Homo sapiens: one gene and its partners. The protein of the gene in region 3 purifies or fractionates together with the protein of the main gene of each other region. This does not show direct contact. Each region holds a gene or a part of one and is shown on either strand. Other genes may lie near its edges. The genes, in order: MZT1, NEDD1 and TUBGCP2.

Region 1 (3,357 bases), on a different chromosome or scaffold from region 3:
GACAAGGACCTGAACAGTTATTTGTATACCAATGCCCATAACATTGTGGCTATTGTGAATAGCCTTTTCAGAATAGACAAAAGGTAGAAACAACCCAAATGTCCACCATATATATAAAAGAATACCTGTCTCCCATGTATATATGAGACATATTCATCCTTAAAGAGGAAATCTGGATACATGTTATAACATGGATAGATCTTGGAGACGTGCTGTGTAAAATAAGACGAACACAAAAGGACAAATATGATTCCACTTATATGAGGTATCCAGAATAGTCAAATTCATTGACAAAAAAGTAGGAAACTGTTTACCAGGGGCTGGGAGGAGGAAGCAATGGGGAGTTACTGCTAAACAGGTACAGAGTTTCAGTTTGGGATAAGAAAGTTCAAGAGATGGACAATAGTGATAGTTACAATACAATAAGAATATTCTGAATGTCACTGAACTATGAAACTTAAAAATGGTTAAAAAGGGCAGGGCATTGTAGCTCATGCCTATAATCCCAGCACTTTGGGAGGTTGAGGCAGGCAGATCATCTGAGGTCAGGAGTTTGAGACCAGCCTGGCCAACATGGTGAAGCCCCGCCTCTACTAAAAATACAAAAAATTAGCCAGGTATGGTGGCAGGTGCCTGTAATCCCAGCTACTCGGGAGGCTGAGGCAGGAGAATCATTTGAACCCAGGAGGCGGAGGCTGCATTGAGCCAAGATCATGCCAATGCACTCCAGCCTGGGTGACAGAGTGAGACTCCATCTCAAAAAAAAAAAAAAAAAAAGGTTAAAATGGTAAATTTTATGTTCTGTATCTTTTGTCCTATAGAAACACAAGTTGAATTAACAAAAGCATATATTAAAACAAAAGTACAGGCCAATACCACCAAAATGGTTTTATTTTTGTCATTGACAACAAGCACAACACTGCAATTGTATCATTATTTTGTTTAGTTTCTTAAATATTACTTAAGTATGCATTAAAAATATGTTTACATTTTAAAAATGTGACACTTTAAAGAAGTCCTCTGTAAACACGATCCCTTCTCAATATATTTTCCTGCTTTGTTTCATACATAAATAACTTAATCTACAAAGTCATAAATAATACTATCAACTCTTATGGCCTGGAAGTATATACAAATTTTGGAGTCTGACAAAAGTGTTCTTTATGATTTTATAAATAACACATAGTATTTGTAGTGTTGATTATAAATCAAATGACTTTTTACAAATTCCTACTGTCTCCTCAACCTGTTCTACCAGTAACAGATCTTCCAGTTTACTTGGTTGGTAAAGATGCCAGGCATTTAAAAAGTCAAAATGGTCAAAATTCTATATTAAAAAAAAAAAAAGGCAGAGAAGGTTGCTATTTAAATATTACCAAATCTTAATAAAACCACTTCAGCTTGTCTGAAAAACAAAAAATGCTAGTAAAGAGTGAATGCTTGTACAATCATATAAATGGTACTCAATAAAATCTAAAATTTAAGAAATAATAAAATCAGATGAAATCCATATTAGTTTTGCAAAAAAACTCCACTGAGATTCTATTACAGGAACAGAATCAATACTATTCTACATTTTCTAAAATTTATTTCTAATCTTCACTTTGATGAGTTAAAATTTTAAAGGCAAGAATAATGACAAACAAAACAATTCTGAAAAGCCATACTTATAATCCTTGACATCAAGATGTTAAAAAGGTTTTTTAAAAAAAGCCATACTTGAGATTCCTAATATAGAACATTTGATTGTTTAGTTTTGTTTAATGACTGGAAATCCTTATTTCTTCAAAAAATAGCAAGTATCCTTTGAAACACATCACCCATCTAATAAGATTGTTTAGTTTTGTTTAATGACTGGAAATCCTTATTTCTTCAAAAAATAGCAAGTATCTTTTGAAACACATCACCCATCTAATAATTTATTAAATAACCATTCAAGATTTATTAGGTAAGCACTAAAATTACTTTTATGTAATAAAAGTAAATAGGAATTTTGCATGTTTGTTGTTTCATTTTACAAATTTTTTTATTCCGTTATTTATAGGATATAAAACTTTAAGAAAACATTCTCAACTAACATTCTCATTAGATGTAAATGATTCAAATTACAAATAATACTAACCTAAGCATTGTCATTACTTTTAAAATCCAAGTTTCTCAAAGTTTGATTTTTTTACTCAATACAAAAATGACCTGGTTCACACTATTAGCTGCCCAACAAACTGTTTGAAAAACTAAATATTCTTTGTTCAAGAGTAGATTACAAGAAATGTTTTCCATGCTCTTATTTCAAAAAACAAGATTCTGATATACATAATGAATCTAAATAAAAATTCACAAGTGGTGGCTGAAATCCTGTCAACTTTCAGCCCAATACAATATAAATCCACAGTTATAATGCATAAACAATTCAAAATTAAAGTTTATAATGGAAATGTCAACAAGTCATAACTACTACACATTACTACTGATGGGTTCCACTATACTTCAACCTGGCACAGCAGATGTGCACATCTGATAGACAGACTGCTTAGAAAATTAAAGCTATCAGAGCTATAAATAAGGAATACATAAATATGAACATAGCAATGCCAAAGCATTAGAGCTGTTAAAAAAAGTGAATAAGATGTGATGTAAACACATCTGATAGTTCTCTCTGTAAGCCACTTTCCACTGATTTATAAAGCTATGGTTTTATAATTCTTTTAAAAAGTAAAATTTTTCTACACTGCTGCATGCAGTAATTTCATTGTACATTCTCAACTACAATGCAATCTTCAAACCCTCTTGCAGAGCTTGACATATCTCATCAGAATTTCTCCAGAAAGTCAGCTTGTCATATTTTCAGCAGCCTAGAACAAGAAAGTAAGATTCATTACAATAAAACCATGGAAAAAGAGGCATCATGAAGATAAATTTGTCAATACTGCACTGTCATTAACAAACAACTATTCCCCATAAAACAGAACCACTTTTATCACAGTAATGCAGTGCTTTTCATGTTTTGCTATACATCAGGACTACCTTTTGAATGTACAGTTAACAGTCCACAGGCTAACAGTGGAAAATAGTTATATCACCTAAAATAATAGTTAAGAGCACAAAAAACATACTGCTACTTGAAACATTAACCTATGGCAGACCTGTTGCCACAGACTTCATTAGTTTGTCTGTTTCTGTGTTTTATTCTAGTAATAGGGATTAAAAATGAAAAAGACCTTTCATGCTACAAGGCAGAGAGAACAAGAGCAAAAGATGAATAATGAACATCTTATCTAATCCTGTCTCATCTACATCCCTAACTACTACTCTTTCCCAGGTGATTCTGAAGAAATTCCAAGATACCATATCATCAAT
Region 2 (7,594 bases), on a different chromosome or scaffold from region 3:
AGGTAAAGATATCTTAAAAATACCACCCAGGAATAAAGATTTGTCAGAAGTACAATATAGTAACATAAATGCAAAAGATATCATGTAATTTGTGCAATTCAAAATTCCAAAAATTGTCTTATCAAATGTACAATAAATAATAGTCATACTTGACTTCATCAAGTTAACAAAATAATTACTAGCCAACCCTATGTTTTATTAGTCAATGGCTTAGAAACACCAATTGCCATTTTAAAATTACTTTCTCCATAAAAATAGAAGGCATATCAAACTCTTTAAATCTCAACTAGCCCCAAAAATTTGAAAGGCAATTTGTCAATCAAAAATATATGTTAAAAAAGATGACTAAAAAACAAACATAACCAATTTTTATGCACAATTTTCTTCTCTTATGAAAAAGGGCACTTAGTGGATGGCTAAAGCTTTCAAAAAATAAAGATCCTGTTGACTTTCCTATTGGGTAGATGACATACTGTACAATTTTTAATATAAAAATATACATATTTTTAAGATGAAACAGTTGTTGGTATAAAATCCCATCATCCTTTTACTCTTACTTGAAAAACATTTTTTCCCTGGAGGCCATGAAAACAATACTGATTCTATGTAGTTCTGTGTTGCCAGAAACTTCCCAAATTACAGAACATTAAGGTATTCACTGAAATTTCAAAAGTGGGCCCGTAATCTTTTGTTTTCTTCTCGTAGTCTTTCAATTTCAGCCACTAAACCTTCATTCACTGAGTATCTTTCCAGCAAAGAATGCATTTCATTCTAGAAAAACAGGAAAATGCTTTTTAAATTATTGATATTTCACATTTATTTGGCAGGCTATGTTTAATATACTTTCAGCTATCATTTCTCTCATGTTCAATTAACTAGGTGAATGATATTTCTTGTACTTAACAACTTACTAGTTTGTTAATATAAATGGAAGATCGTTGGTGAAATTAGTATATTTGGAAAATTTATATTTGCACATTTAAAATGCTTTTTGCTTACTTATCAGGAAGAAAGCCATGGAAAAAAGAAGGCTTAAGTATCTCAGAGGTTAAAAAGGAGGTGACCAGTTAAAATCTATTTTACTTATTTAGTCTATAAAACTCCCTATTTATCTTAGAAACTAAACAAAACAACTAAAATATATTACCTTTCATGGATTTTTAAAAATTCACACAACTCTACTTTCATTTAAAATATTAAAATAAAATTTGCCATACATACCAGTTGCATATGAAACTGTTTAATCATCTCCACTTGCAAATTCACAATGTCCCTATGGCATGCTTCTCTAGGAAGAATGTAAAATACTTTTTAGAATTACAATAGTTTAACCAATTCTAGGTCATTCAAGAAACTCACTAAACTTTTTCATTTGCCAAATTACTGAATGTTAATAATTACTATAATAATAAAAATACCAATGCACTGAGCATTTATTCACTATGTGCTAGGCACTGTTTCCTTTACTTTAAATGTAAGAACTCGTTTAAAATATCTTCACAAGTAGATGCAATTATTACAGGTCCATTTTACAAAAGAAATAACTTAACCAGAGTAGATATAACTTGTTCAAAGTCACACAACCAGTAAATGATGGAGCTAGGATGTAAACCCAGGCTGTTTAACCCCTGAACTCTCCGATACTATATTCCTTTATATAGAAATTGTCATTAAGACACAAACTTATCTTACAATGAAATACAGAAAATTCACTAGGTTAGAAAGATCATTTTATTATTATCAGTTTAGCTATTGAAAAAATGTACTTTCAGTATAAAGTGGCAATTTGGGTGGATATAGCATGGCTTACTCAATAAAATACAATTAATTCATGCCTACAAAAGAATATGTAAAAATTATTAAGTATAATAACAAAAGAAACACTCAGTCACCCACCACACAACTTATGAACTAGAACATTACCAAATAATAGAAGCTTCCTGTGTGTTCCTGTCTGATTCTATCACTTAACTCTTGGGAAAAAGCCCAAGAAAGAAGTCATTACTCTCCTGAATTTTGTTGGACAAAGAAATGCTTTTGCTTTTTTAATACATTTGTATAACATATAATCTGTAGTCAATGTTTTCATTGTGCATGTTTTTGAGCATTACAAAAAAGGGTACCATATAGCTTATATTTAAGAAATAATTCAATATTGTTTTGAAGATTCATGTTTTATATATCTGTATATCATTAGTTTGTACTGGTGTATCTATTTTCCTGTTAATATTTTGACTGTTTTCAAGTTTTTACTATTCCAACGTTGTTATAAACAATCATGTATTATCTCCAAACCCACATGTGCCAATGTCCATTGATGATATAACCAACTGTAACTCAAGTGTATACTTTTACAAAATCATGCAAATTGTTTTCCAAAGGTAGTTATCAATGGATGTCACCAGTATAACAGAGTTCTTCTTGCTCTATATCATCAAGACTTAGTATTACCAGATTTTTTATATTTTCCCATTTACTCGGTGTGACACGGTATCTCATTGCATTTTTAGTTCTCTGATTAATTGTGAAGTTGAATATCTTTCCTGTGTTCATATACCATTCCTCTTCCTTGAAATGCTTTTTCATATCTTTTTCTTATTCATTTATAAGCATTCTTTACATAATCTGATCCTTTGTTATTTATATGAGAACTGCAGGTATCTTCTTATCCCTTCACTCTGTGATATTGTGTGATAAATAGTTCTTATTAATGTGCTCAAATATACTAATAATGCAGTCAAATTTACCAATGTATTTTTATAGGCAGTGCATTATTTTATTTTTAATGATTTCCTACCATGAAGTTATAAACTTTTATAAAGTCAACTTTTAATCTACATGGAACTGATTTTTCTCAATTGCATGGAATCTATACTTATTTTTTACAGGAAAAAACAAATGTCACAACACAACTTACTGATTATTCCATTTTTTGCACATAAATCTGCAATGCTACCTCTCTATTATTTCCATATATGCATAGGTTTCTTTCCAGCTTATTTCATTCCTTTGGCCAGTATGTCATCCCTGTGCCATGCTATATATCTTAATTATACTTTAATAATTAAGTGTATTCATCTGACAAATAAGTCCCCTTCAACCTTATTCTTCTCTGAAATGTCTTAGTTATTCTTAGATTTTTTTCCTTCCATACATATTTTGGAATCACTTCATCATCTTCTTCCAAATCCCAGCTGGGATTTTAATTGGAATTGCATTCAATCTACTGACCTATTTAGGTGAACTAATATCTTTATAATCTCTCCATTTATTTAAATGTTAATGCTTTTAAACAAAAAAAATTTTTAATGTTTTTCTACAAAAATCTTCACTACCTTTGGTAGATTTATTCCCAAGTAACTTATTGTTTTTCTGTTCTAACTATGAGGGTATTTTTAAAAATTTCCTCTTCTACTTTCAATTATAGTAAAAACTGTATTGAAAACAAACAAAAACACTGTATCAGGGAACCATTGAGGTAGCCAGGACTTGAAGGGCCATGATCTTGCAAACGAAAGACTACTAGGTAAGCTCTTCATTTACCTCTGTTTTTCCTTCTAGAGTATGTGCTGATTCCACAGTGTGGAGAAGAAACCGAGCTGAAGCAGTGGCCTGGAGGTTGAGATAGTCTCGCTGGGTGGGGGAGTATTAAGAGTTTGGGCCTACCAAGGTAGCCAAGGCTGTAAGAGCCAAGGTCTTGAAGAGAGGAGGCCTGCAGAAAACTAAGCCTGAAACTGTGGAATTTCCCCTCAAGACATCTGTTGACTTCTAAGCAATGCTCCCCCTGGGTTAGATGGCAGGAAACCAACCAAAAAACAAGTAACTAAAGAGCAGAGAAAGTATTCTGGAAGTCTTGTGATGCTGGCAAAATAGAGGCTGAAGTTTGGGACCCACCAAGGTAAAAAAGACAGTGAATACTCCAGACATTCAGCTGATGTCCTAGAAAAGACTACACACTAGGAATAAAGGCAAACTGGAAACAAACTAGTGCTAAGAAAACCTGAACCTAGTAACCAAAGGATCAAAGGGATCTGCTTGCCAAAAGAAACTTAAATCTTCTTAATAGACAACAGAAACAGATGCACAGATTTCCACTTAGGATGTATTAGGTTGGTGCAAAAGTATAATTTCTCAACTCTAATAACGAAAACAAACCTGATAACCTATAAAATCATATTATTTTAAATTCAACCGAGAGCTGAGAATGGAAAGAAATCTAAATGAACTAAAATCCAGAAAATGAGGAGTTCCTCTTAGGAGAAAAGAGACCCATGACTAGGAGAAAAGAGACCCATCTTCATGCCCTTGACAGAGTAAAAAGAACTAGCTGAAATTTTAATAAGATTTTTAAAAGCCAAGTAAACACTGCTTGATAGTTTAGAATTCCAAGGGGTCCCAGCCACAAGGAGAGTCTCAATTTACTCACCAACTTTTTCCCACAAGCCTTCATTCAGCGCTCATGTAAAAAAAGTAGGGACAAGTGTAACAGGAGGGCTGAGGGAGACTCCCTAAGATACAGATGCACAGAGCCTGGTGAAACCTTAGGGCAGCAGAGAAGAACTGAGAGTAACCCCTCTAAGGCACTCCAGGCTCTCATGGAGAAGATGGCAGCCACGGGAGGATGGCTGAGAAAGAGGTCCTCAATACCCTCTCTGTCCTGCCAATGATAGGTGTAGATGAACACCTAGTCTGATGAACACCTAGGCAAATGGCAAAACAAGTGAATTTATGGAAATCCTCTGAGCCACTCTGGGTCTTCACTGCGTCCCAGGCAGAGGCTGCCTATGGTCAAAGGGCAGAAGAGCTGAGAGAAGTCCCTACCCACCACTCCTAGGTGCAGACATGCAGCACAGGGCAGCAAAACCAAGAGGCACTGACTGTACGTCTTCACCAAACGTGCTGCAGCAGCTCTGCAGGGCTGAAAGTGGGACAGACACACTTCTCCTGAGGCACAGAAAGCCAGGAACAGGTTAGATAGTGAAAAACAAGCTCCAGCCACCCCGAAAGCTGGCAGCAGGGCAGAAATGCACAGCGATTTCAGAGTTGCTCCAGCACTCAGATCCCTGGGTCTGCTGAAGGAAAGGCCCTGAGCCCACTGTCCTCAAATCATCTGAAGCCAGTGGTGAACTGACACCCAAATGCTTGTTGAATAAATGGGTAATAAATAGACAGCACCCATTACTCCTGTGCTTAAAAACTCTGATGGCTCTCCATTACCTGTGTGTTAAGACCTTCACAACTGTCCCTCAGGCCTGGTCTCTTACCACGGTGCCTTCTCTCTGCAAACATTCCTAGAATGTATGATCATGTCTCTGCTCAAGCTGTTCCCACACACATCAGTATAAAATAAAATCTCTTCAGTGTACCTTTCTAAATCTGCCCCCACAGAAGAACTGCTCCCTTTCTGTGATTTCAACATCACTTTGCTCACACTGTATTATAGTCAGCTGTATCCAGACAGTTCTACTATTATGCCATAAATATTTATGCACTCCTGAAAAAAACGTATATTCTTTAACACTGTGTATTAAAAATAACAGAACTTAGGGAAAAAGGATTAGGGCAAAGCACTCAAAAACCTATGCAACTTTGTAACCAGAGCACAACAAAAACAATTAAATCCTAATAAAAATACTAACATAGTTAAAAAGACATAGTAAAAATCTAATAGATAATTATTGAATAATACCCTTACTGTGAAGAAGTGATGGTCACTTAATGGAAGAGGATAGAAGGATTGCGGCTATCAAGTTACAGAGGCAAGAGCAAAATGCCCAAAGATGGGAAATAATCACAAAATAAGTACTTCTAACAGACCACACAGCCAAGCCAAGAGGAAGTGAATAAAAAGAGATGGATGCTGACGGGGTTTGCTGCATTCAGCTGTGTTCAGGTGTACTTTATTTTGGCTGCTATTACACGAACAAACAAAATTTCCTCATCATATTGTCAACAGTGTTCTATTCTACTGATCCCAAATGAATTAATTCACATTAAGAGAAACACACATGGCAGAACACACTGCACCTAGCCCAACTACATCACAAGGCCTTTGTGGCAGATCATTTGATGTATCCTTAGTATCTGGTACATATACTAGGTAGGGTAAATGCCAAAATTACAATTTTTCTTTAAAAAGTATTTTTCGACATTTAAAAATATATTTTAAAAGTATTTTAAAACATTAAAAGGAAGCATGCACCAACAAAAACTGCACATTTTCTCCAACATTCTTGCTTACGGTAATCCAAATCTGAGCTACAACATTAACTATAGGTTAGAAAGGAAAAAAGGCACCAATGATTTTAATAATTGAAGATAGCTTCCAAAAATATTGAGATGATAAAAGAAAGCAGCATTGTAGAACACATTCTTAGAATGTTCACAATTCGAAGGATGAGACAGACAAGGATAAGTCTGAGAAAGAATTTTTTTTAGATTAAGTATTACATTCTGATGCATTCTATTGGAAAACATTCAGAATTGTGCTTTAAAGTATCTTTTTCTACTACATTATTGCACACAGCATACCTAATAGATCTATGAACATACTGCAGGTTAAGAACCCAATTTAAGCTTACCAGAACTTGTCCACATTTTAATAATAAAAAAAGTTCACAATGGCAGTCTACCTGCTAGACTGCCCTGCTGAGTTACCTAATAATTGCCCTAGGTAAATGTGCCTTTTCCTGGCTCATAATCAATAAATGCAGTACGAAAAGATCAACAAAACTCATTATGTTTTCTATGGCTTTAGGATTACCAGAACCTAGACAATAGTAACCAACAACATTATCTATAGTTCTGGTTTTACATCTAAAAAAAAAACAAGTAAGGTCTAGATAGAAGGAGTAGTTTCTCAATTACTACCTAAAGTCATCCAACGTTTCCTGTATCATGTTCTGAATAAAACGAATTTGAATGGAAGTCAATGGTGCATTTTGCCGGTTATTTCCAATGCTGTCGGCTATTTTTTCTGAGAGTGAACTGGCAACTCCAGCAGTGACAGAAGATGCTATCTTTGGATCTAAAATAAAGAATGAAGAAAATATTAATAGTCAACTTGGACTGAGAGACATCAAACATTTCTAAATAAGATTTGGCATGTGCAAACTTGAAAAACTGGCAAAGAAGAGTGTTCCTGTGACATTTAGAAAAATTCACTGTCTGGAATACAAATCTTAGAAACTTTCTATAACATTATTTCTAATAGTCATTTATCTATATATATAAACTGCCAGCTGTCTAATGTAATACCACATGACAGAGGGATTAATCTTGAAGAATCTATGAACCATTTCCTCTTATAAAAGATGAATGTGACAAGCTGCACCATAAACTAGATAAACCAAGACTATTAAAAACAAACCGAAGGAAAATAGGAGTAAAGTACTGCTACAGGAAAAGCCTTAGAGTTTAAGCTAATGCAATATATATCCACAGAAAACTTCAAGCAAAATATAGATATTTATATGAGAGTTGATTGTAAACAAAGAGTTGCTTTGTGTAGATAACTCTTAGAGTTAAACCAAATATTCCTTTAAATGTGATGAAGTTTGTATGGGTCTGCAGCACAAACTCTAAGGATAAGACT
Region 3 (7,594 bases):
TTTCTTCGAGAGACAGGGTCTTGCTGTCGCTCAGACTGCAGTGCAGTGGCACGATCTTGGCTCACTGCAGCCTTGACCTCCTGGACTCAAGCAACCCTCCCACCTCAGCCTCCTGAGTTGCTGGAACTACAGGCATTCCCGGCTAATTAAAATAATTTTCTTTTTTTTTAAGAGATGAGCTCTTGTTACATTGTCCAGGCGGGTCTCGAACTTGTGGGCTCAAACAATCCTCCCTCCTCAGCTTCCCAAAGTGCTGAGATTACAGGCATGAGCCACTGCACCCGACTGGACAAATTCTTATGAAGCTCTGCCATCGACCCCTTTTTTCAACACCCTAGAGGCACAGACCGGCTGCAAAGCACCTCTGGTCCCAGCAAGATGTGGCTGTCCGCTCTCGGGAGGAGCTAGTGTCCTGCACACCGACCTGGGCAGTCTCCATGCCCGTGCAGTCACCACAAGGCTCCAGAGAGGGCTGAGGGACAGAGCCAGCATCCCCTGTGGGGTGGACGGCAGCGCCGTGCAGCCCCAAGACAGGAAAATGAAGCAATGAAGCATTATGGATCTAAAGCCACCAACGTGCGCTTCCAGATGACACTTCCAGAAGCCTAGAAAGCTGTCTACCAGGAGGGCACAAGGGGGGCGCTGCACCACTGGGCAGAGTGCAGCGAGCGCTGCTTCAGGAGGGCATGCGGGGGCAGAGGAAGAACGCACCACTGGGCGGAGTGCAGCGAGTGCTGCTTGGCGGTTTTGTTGCTGATCCAGACGCTGCAGAGCTGCCGCTCCACGTGCTTGCAGTAGAACATGTGCCTGAAGAGCATCTGGTAGCGAGTGAGGGCTTTCCTGCAAGAGACGTGGCGGCACCTCAGGTGGGCCTCCGTGACCGGCGGCGTCGTGGACACGGCGTCTGTACTCCACAGTCCGCACCGTGGCCCCCGGACAGCCCGTGAATCTCTCGGACACTGAAGGCCGGGGAGAGCCGCCTTGGGTCCTCTGTGGGACGAGGTGGCCACCGCGTGGCACAGTTCTCGCTTCTGCCAAACCTGAGTGAAGATCTGGCAGGTGCCCGAGCAGCCGACCCGCACCTGTTGATGATGAGCGAAAGGGGCCACTTGACGATGTAGTCGAAAGAGAAGGCCTCCAGGCCGCTCAGCGCCAGCTCCGTGGGGTCGGCGTGCGCCATCGCCTTCTCCTGCTTGGTCTCGATGGCCAGGACGCGCAAGAGCTGAGTGATGAGGTCATGGGGCATCAGGTCGATCTTGGAGGGAAGGAAATGAAACAAAGCATCCAGTTTTAAGGAAAAGACCCGAAGTCGCATCCCGATCGCCATCCTCGCTCACAGACCCAGCGCTGACGTAAGGTTCCCTACATTCCGATTCTAAATATCAGAGGCTTTTCAAAAACCCAAACATCTACTGATAAATCAAATTCAAAACTGAACCACTTCCCATCAGAACAAAACAACAAAAATTCAGATGAATTACTTTGTAAATACCCACTGCTGCTGTGGGTGGTATAAGGGAAAAACCGCTAAGGACGGTGAAAGAAACGTGATTCCTTAGGACGAAAACCTTTGTACCATGATAAGCACCAGGCCCAGGTTGAAAAATGAAGCATATTTGACGAGGGACATAATAGTTATTATAAGCAAGTAATACTGTCCTCACGTTAATCACTCGAGTATTTGCTAAGTTCCAACCACCCGCAACAGAGTTCCTACAAAACCATCGCACAACGACAGGACAGGAAATGAAGGGCAGGGGATAAAGCAAGAAGAAACAAGCAGCGGACAGACGAAATCGTGACCATCACAAACGCAGAAATGAGCCCCTGACATCACTTGTCCATCAAATAGCCAAGGTGGGAGCTTTCGCAGGTGTGCAGACAGCAGCGTCCTGAGACTGGACTCCATCAACTCCAGCAAGGTCAGCCTAGTCATACAAGGGCCATGTATTGTGACCCAACAATTTCACTACCAGGAATTTTTCCTACGAAAATATTCCTGCTCCTAACAAGAGACCCCAAAATATCTGAATCAAGAATAGACAGAATGACAAGGAGAAAAGCAGTTCTTCAGTGACAGGGAGACTCGGTGCCCTACTTCTAACCACGGAGAGAACCGCCGGACAGACGATCAGTGAGGAAAGACACGGCCTCAACCCACCTGCAGAACACCACCCCAACAGCACCGAGGGCGCGTCCTCCTCCCGCGCGCACGGAACCGAGGGCACATCCTCCTCCCGCGCGCACGGAACACTCTCCAGGATGGATGTGGGGCCACTACACAAATCAATACATTTCACAAAACTGAAATCACAAAAAGTCTGTTCTCTAACAAGGAGATAAAGTTAGAAACAAGCAACAGAAGGAAAACCAGAAACTTCACAAACATGTGGAAGTTAAACATAAACCACCCACGGCTCCAACAAGAAATCAGAGGGAATCAGAAACACCTCCAGACAAACAGAAATTATGACGCTAGGGGATCAGCGAAGGCTGCACTCGGAGGGATGTTTACAGCTGTAAACTAACTTTTCAAATTAAGAAACTAGAAAAAAGAAGACCACACTGAACCCCTAAGCAGCAGACAGGAGTAACAAAGATGACAGAAGAGAGAAAACAGAAAAATACAGTCAACAAACCCAAGAGTTGGTTCTTTGAAAAGATAATGAAATCGACAAATTTCTAGCTACATCAGCTAAGACGAAAGAAGATTCAAATTACTAAAATCAGAAAAAGAAGGGATATAACTACTAATCTTACAGAAATAAAAAGCAGATACTAGAAACCCATGAACTGTGCACCAGACAAGATGCGAGACAGACAGCCGACCAAGAGGAAAGGGACTGAGCAGACCTGTGGCCAGCAAGGGGCCAAGTCCCCCTCAAAAGTCTCCAACAAAGACAAACCCAGGGCCCAAGAGCTCCCAGGCAAACCCTGCCAAACAGCCAAAGAATCAACACCCTCCTGGGGAGGCGCAGGTGAAGGATCGCTTGAGCCCAGGGGTTCAACCAGCCTGGGCAACACAGACCCCCGTCTCTATTAAAAATAGTAAAAAACAGATAAAACATATATATATTTTAAAAAACGGCTGGGCACGGTGGCTCATGCCTGTAATCCCAGCACTTTGGGAGGCCAAGGTGGGTGGATCACCTGAGGTCAAGAGTTCAAGACCAGCCTGGGAAACATGGTGAAACCCCATCTCTACTAAAAATACAAAAATTAGCTGGGCGTGGTGGCGCGCACCTGTAATCCCAGCTACTCGGGAGGCTGAGGTAGAGCATCACTTGAACCCAGGAGGTGGAGGCTGCAGTGAGCTGAGATCATGCCACTGCACTCCAGCCTGGGTGACAAGAGCAAAACTCCGTCTCAAAAAAAAAAACAAAAAACAACGACAACAAAAAGGCAAAAACAAAAAGAATTAACACCACTCCTGAAACCCTTTCAAAAGACCTGAAACCCTTTCAAAAGACAGATGGAGGGACACGTGAAAACAATTCCACAAGGCCAGCATGACCTGAAAGCCAGGCCCGGACGAGGGCACTGCAGGAAAACCCGAGACCCGCGCCCCTCCAGAGCACAGGCACAAAGACCCCCGATCCCGGCAAGCCGGCCCCGGTAGCCAAGTGAAGGAAACAGACCCTGCGGTCGCCTCACCGGGACGGGGAGTGGGGGACAGGGCTGGCCTCTGCTGTGCTCTCCTCCCAGCCCCTCCGAGGCCTCTGCCACAGGGGACAGCCCCCGGCACCCCCACCCACCTTGAGGTCGTCCTTGAAGGGGTCAGTGTTGGCCGTGCTCATGCGCAGCGCCAGCTCCAGGAGCGCTTCCAGGCGAGGGGGCGTGATGTCCTCCACCGGCTTCCGGAGCTCCTCCTCCGCGAGGTCCATGAAGTGCACGAAGAAGTCGCCCTGGTCCATGAGGAAGTAGCGCTTGATGGACCTGCGCCAGGGAGCAGGCGTGAGCAGGTGCCCACCCGCAGGTGCCCGCCACAGCCAGGGAGCAGGCGTGAGCACGTGCCCACCCGCAGGTGCCCGCCACAGCCAGGGAGCAGGCGTGAGCACGTGCCCACCCGCAGGTGCCCGCCACGGCCAGGGAGCAGGCGTGAGCACGTGCCCACCCACAGATGCTCGCCATAGCCATCACCCTAAAACACACTACAACAGGCTAAGCGCTTGGCTCTCAGGCAGGGGCTGTGCAACCACCACGCAAGCTGTGGCAGGAGGAGCTGAGAAGGGGCTGGTGGGCCCTGGGCAAGGAGGGGAGCTGGGGCCCCTGGACAAGGTGACCGGGGGCCTACACCACCCACTGTGAGTGCCAGGTCCTTGAGCTAGAGACCATCCAGCAGTGCCCACTTTCAAAAAGACAAGGCGGAGCTGCCAGAAGAAACCCAGCGATCTCAGCCCCACGTCCCACAGGTTCCGGTTTCAGAGGGAGGTGAGTGCCCGCACAGGGACAGGGCACGGAATCACCTGAGGTGAGCCACCAGCTCCTTCTCCTCCATCAGGAAGTCCAGCAGCACCTTGCTGGCGTAGTTAAACGCCTTCTCGATCTGCTCCACATACGCCCGCTCTTTTAACGTGTAGATGATCTCTTTAGCCACCGGGCAGGTGACGTCATGGCCACACTCTCTGACCACATTTAGATATTTTCCTGAAAACACAGAAATTCAAAATTTTATTCTCCACATGGTCGATCTCAGGCCCCAGCTGTCTTTGTCTACACAGGAGGCAGTGGAATGGACATTGAATGGGCTCTCCACACGGTCAGTCTGAGGCCCCAGCTGTCTTTGTCTACACAGAAGGCAGTGGAATGGAAACTGGGCTGCATGAGGCGGCTCCACACCCTTGCTCCTTCCCGGTAAATCACTGTCAGCGGCTACAGACTGAGCTGGTGGTGGCAGGGCTTTGCCGTGGCTCTGCACATCTGGAATTTTCTAACCAAGGGCACAGAAATAATTTCGAACAGGCATTATGAGAACCGGATGGCTAATCGCTTCCCAACCCTTTCGTGACGGCCCCGATGTGCCGAGTCCAAGTCCCCGCGCCACTGCCCTGGGTCCAGGTCAGGCCCTAACCTGTGTGGTCAGAGATAGGAAACACTGCCGGCCGCCAGGCGTGTGTCTTTGCTGGTTTTTCCTGACATGCTAGCGGAGTTTTAGAAATCAGAAACAGAAATAGAGAAGGCACCTGTGAGAGAGCCTCGCAGGGTCAGGGACAGAGTCCCGGAGATGGAAACCTGAGGGAACCTGGCAACAGAGACCATCTCAAGGCCTAACTCAGCGCCGCAGCCCAGCCCACGGGCCAGTCCTGACCTCAGCCCCGCATTCACGGACACCAGGGCTCAGGGCAACCACAGGGTGAGGCACAGGCTCCCGGTGGGAGGGCCTGGGCTGCAGGAGACTCTCCAGGCAGAGCTGTGCTGCGCACCCCAAGTCCCCGCCCGCTGCGCCGCACCTGTGCTGAGGATCTTGTCCGCCATTTTCTGCAGGAAGGACGGGATCTGCTGCTGGACGATGGTGTACCGCTGGTCCCAGTACTTGTCGTTGTAATCCTCCTGGATCCTCTCCTTCCGCAGCTCGTGCTCCTCGACCATAAACTCACTAAAACCACAGGGAGCGCTTCGGTCACAGGCAAAGCAAGGGCGCCTGAGGCAGGCGACACTTCTCCAGGCCGGCAGCGCGCAGGGACATTAACAGAGGCCAGCACACTTCCAAGTAACGTTCCACAAGGGCCGAGCCTAATCTACCAGTTACTTCTCAACTGTGGGCTAAAACGAACCTAGGGGCCGGGCACGGTGGCTCACGCCTGTAACCCCAACACTTCTCGGCTAAAACGAACCTAGGGGCCGGGCACAGTGGCTCACGCCTGTAACCCCAGCACTTTGGGAGGCTGAGGTGGGCAGATCACGAAGTCAAGAGATCAAGACCATCCTGGCCAACACAGTGAAACCCCGTCTCTACTAAAATACAAAAAATCAGCTGGGCGTGGTGGTGTGCACCTGTAGTCCCAGCTACTTGGGAGGTTAAGGCAGGGGAATCGCTTGAACCTGGGAGGTGGGGGTTGCAGCGAGCCGAGATCATGCCACTGCACTCCAGCCTGGCAATGGAGCGAGACTCTGCCTCAAAAAAAAAAAGAAAAAAAAAAAAAAGAAAACCAACAAACCTACAAACCTCGCTCTGGAACGGAGTATTTAACCTGGGCTCAGGGAGAATGTACGGTCCGCAGAGATAGGTGGGAAACTGATTTGTCTTTATCTGCACCCACCTCTTTTTGGAATTTAGCATTTCCTTCCATGATGAGCCCAGGCAACAAAATGATGCTCGTGTGGGGTGCGTGGGGCCCTGACACCCAAAATGATGCTCGTGTGGGGTAGGCGGGGCCAACATTGACAGAAACCAGACATCTCCACGTCATCATCTGAACAACTTCAAACATCATTTACGCACTTCAAGTGTGAAGGTGCTTTCTTTAAAGGTGCCCATTATACCAGATTTTATTTGGTCCATTAGTAAAGAAATAACATTTCCACATCACTAATGTATTTTTTGAAAATATTTCAACAACGGTATCTTGACGTAATAGACATAATACAATTCTTTGGGAACTAACATATTTTTATCCATTTAAATATATCGCACTGAAGAGAAGCCGACAGACCCCACCAGATCAGGAAATCCAAGCACCAAAGAGGTTGAAGGACCTAATTGGAGGCAATTTAATGTCCTGCACACAAAAGAATAAGGCCATAAGCAGCTGGGCCATTCCTGCCCTGGGCCCCATGGGCAGCAGGCGGACATCTGCCCGGGGTGTGCTTTCCTGAGACCACAAGCAAAGGAAGGCCAGAGCCCCCAGAGAGGGCAGCACGCGCCCTCCGTGTCCCCCATGTCCCTCCGTGTCCCCCATGTCCCTCCGTGTCCCTGTGTCCCGGGGAGCCCTACCTGTACGGGAGAGGGCAGCATGCACCGTCCGTGTCCCCCATGTCCCTCCGTGTCCCCGTGTCCCTCCGTGTCCCCGTGTCCCGGGGAGCCCTACCTGTACGGGAGAGGGCAGCATGCACCGTCCGTGTCCCCCATGTCCCTCCGTGTCCCCGTGTCCCTCCGTGTCCCCGTGTCCCGGGGAGCCCTACCTGTACGGGAGAGGGCAGCATGCACCGTCCGTGTCCCCCATGTCCCTCCGTGTCCCCGTGTCCCTCCGTGTCCCCGTGTCCCGGGGAGCCCTACCTGTACGGGAGAGGGCAGCATGCACCGTCCGTGTCCCCCATGTCCCTCCGTGTCCCCGTGTCCCTCCGTGTCCCCGTGTCCCGGGGAGCCCTACCTGTACGGGAGAGGGCAGCATGCACCGTCCGTGTCCCCCATGTCCCTCCGTGTCCCCGTGTCCCTCCGTGTCCCCGTGTCCCGGGGAGCCCTACCTGTACGGGAGAGGGCAGCACGCGCCCTCCGTGTCCCCCATGTCCCTCCGTGTCCCCCATGTCCCTCCGTGTCCCTGTGTCCCGGGGAGCCCTACCTGTACGGGAGAGGGCAGCATGCACCGTCCGTGTCCCCCATGTCCCTCCGTGTCCCCCATGTCCCTCCGTGTCCCTCCGTGTCCCCGTGTCCCGG

What was found.
Region 1: the proteins of TUBGCP2 (region 3) and MZT1 purify together in Homo sapiens (affinity purification with mass spectrometry; 5 studies listed by BioGRID and IntAct, with this or other methods). This does not show direct contact.
Region 2: the proteins of TUBGCP2 (region 3) and NEDD1 purify together in Homo sapiens (affinity purification with mass spectrometry; 2 studies listed by BioGRID and IntAct, with this or other methods). This does not show direct contact.

Annotation. Positions count from the first base shown.
Region 1 is NC_000013.11:72,707,494-72,710,850, forward strand, and holds the end of MZT1 (mitotic-spindle organizing protein 1), read right to left. Parts: intron 2,853-3,357; coding exon 2,829-2,852; 3' UTR 874-2,828; downstream 1-873. UniProt on the Homo sapiens protein: Required for the recruitment and the assembly of the gamma-tubulin ring complex (gTuRC) at the centrosome.
Region 2 is NC_000012.12:96,945,126-96,952,719, reverse strand, and holds part of NEDD1 (protein NEDD1), read right to left. Parts: intron 7,028-7,594; coding exon 6,871-7,027; intron 1,289-6,870; coding exon 1,222-1,288; intron 772-1,221; coding exon 667-771; 3' UTR 1-666. UniProt on the Homo sapiens protein: Required for mitosis progression. Promotes the nucleation of microtubules from the spindle.
Region 3 is NC_000010.11:133,284,374-133,291,967, forward strand, and holds part of TUBGCP2 (gamma-tubulin complex component 2), read right to left. Parts: exon of another isoform or gene 7,029-7,594; intron 6,935-7,028; exon of another isoform or gene 6,460-6,934; intron 5,597-6,459; coding exon 5,451-5,596; intron 4,648-5,450; coding exon 4,467-4,647; intron 3,937-4,466; coding exon 3,756-3,936; intron 1,256-3,755; coding exon 1,083-1,255; intron 841-1,082; coding exon 712-840; intron 1-711. UniProt on the Homo sapiens protein: Component of the gamma-tubulin ring complex (gTuRC) which mediates microtubule nucleation.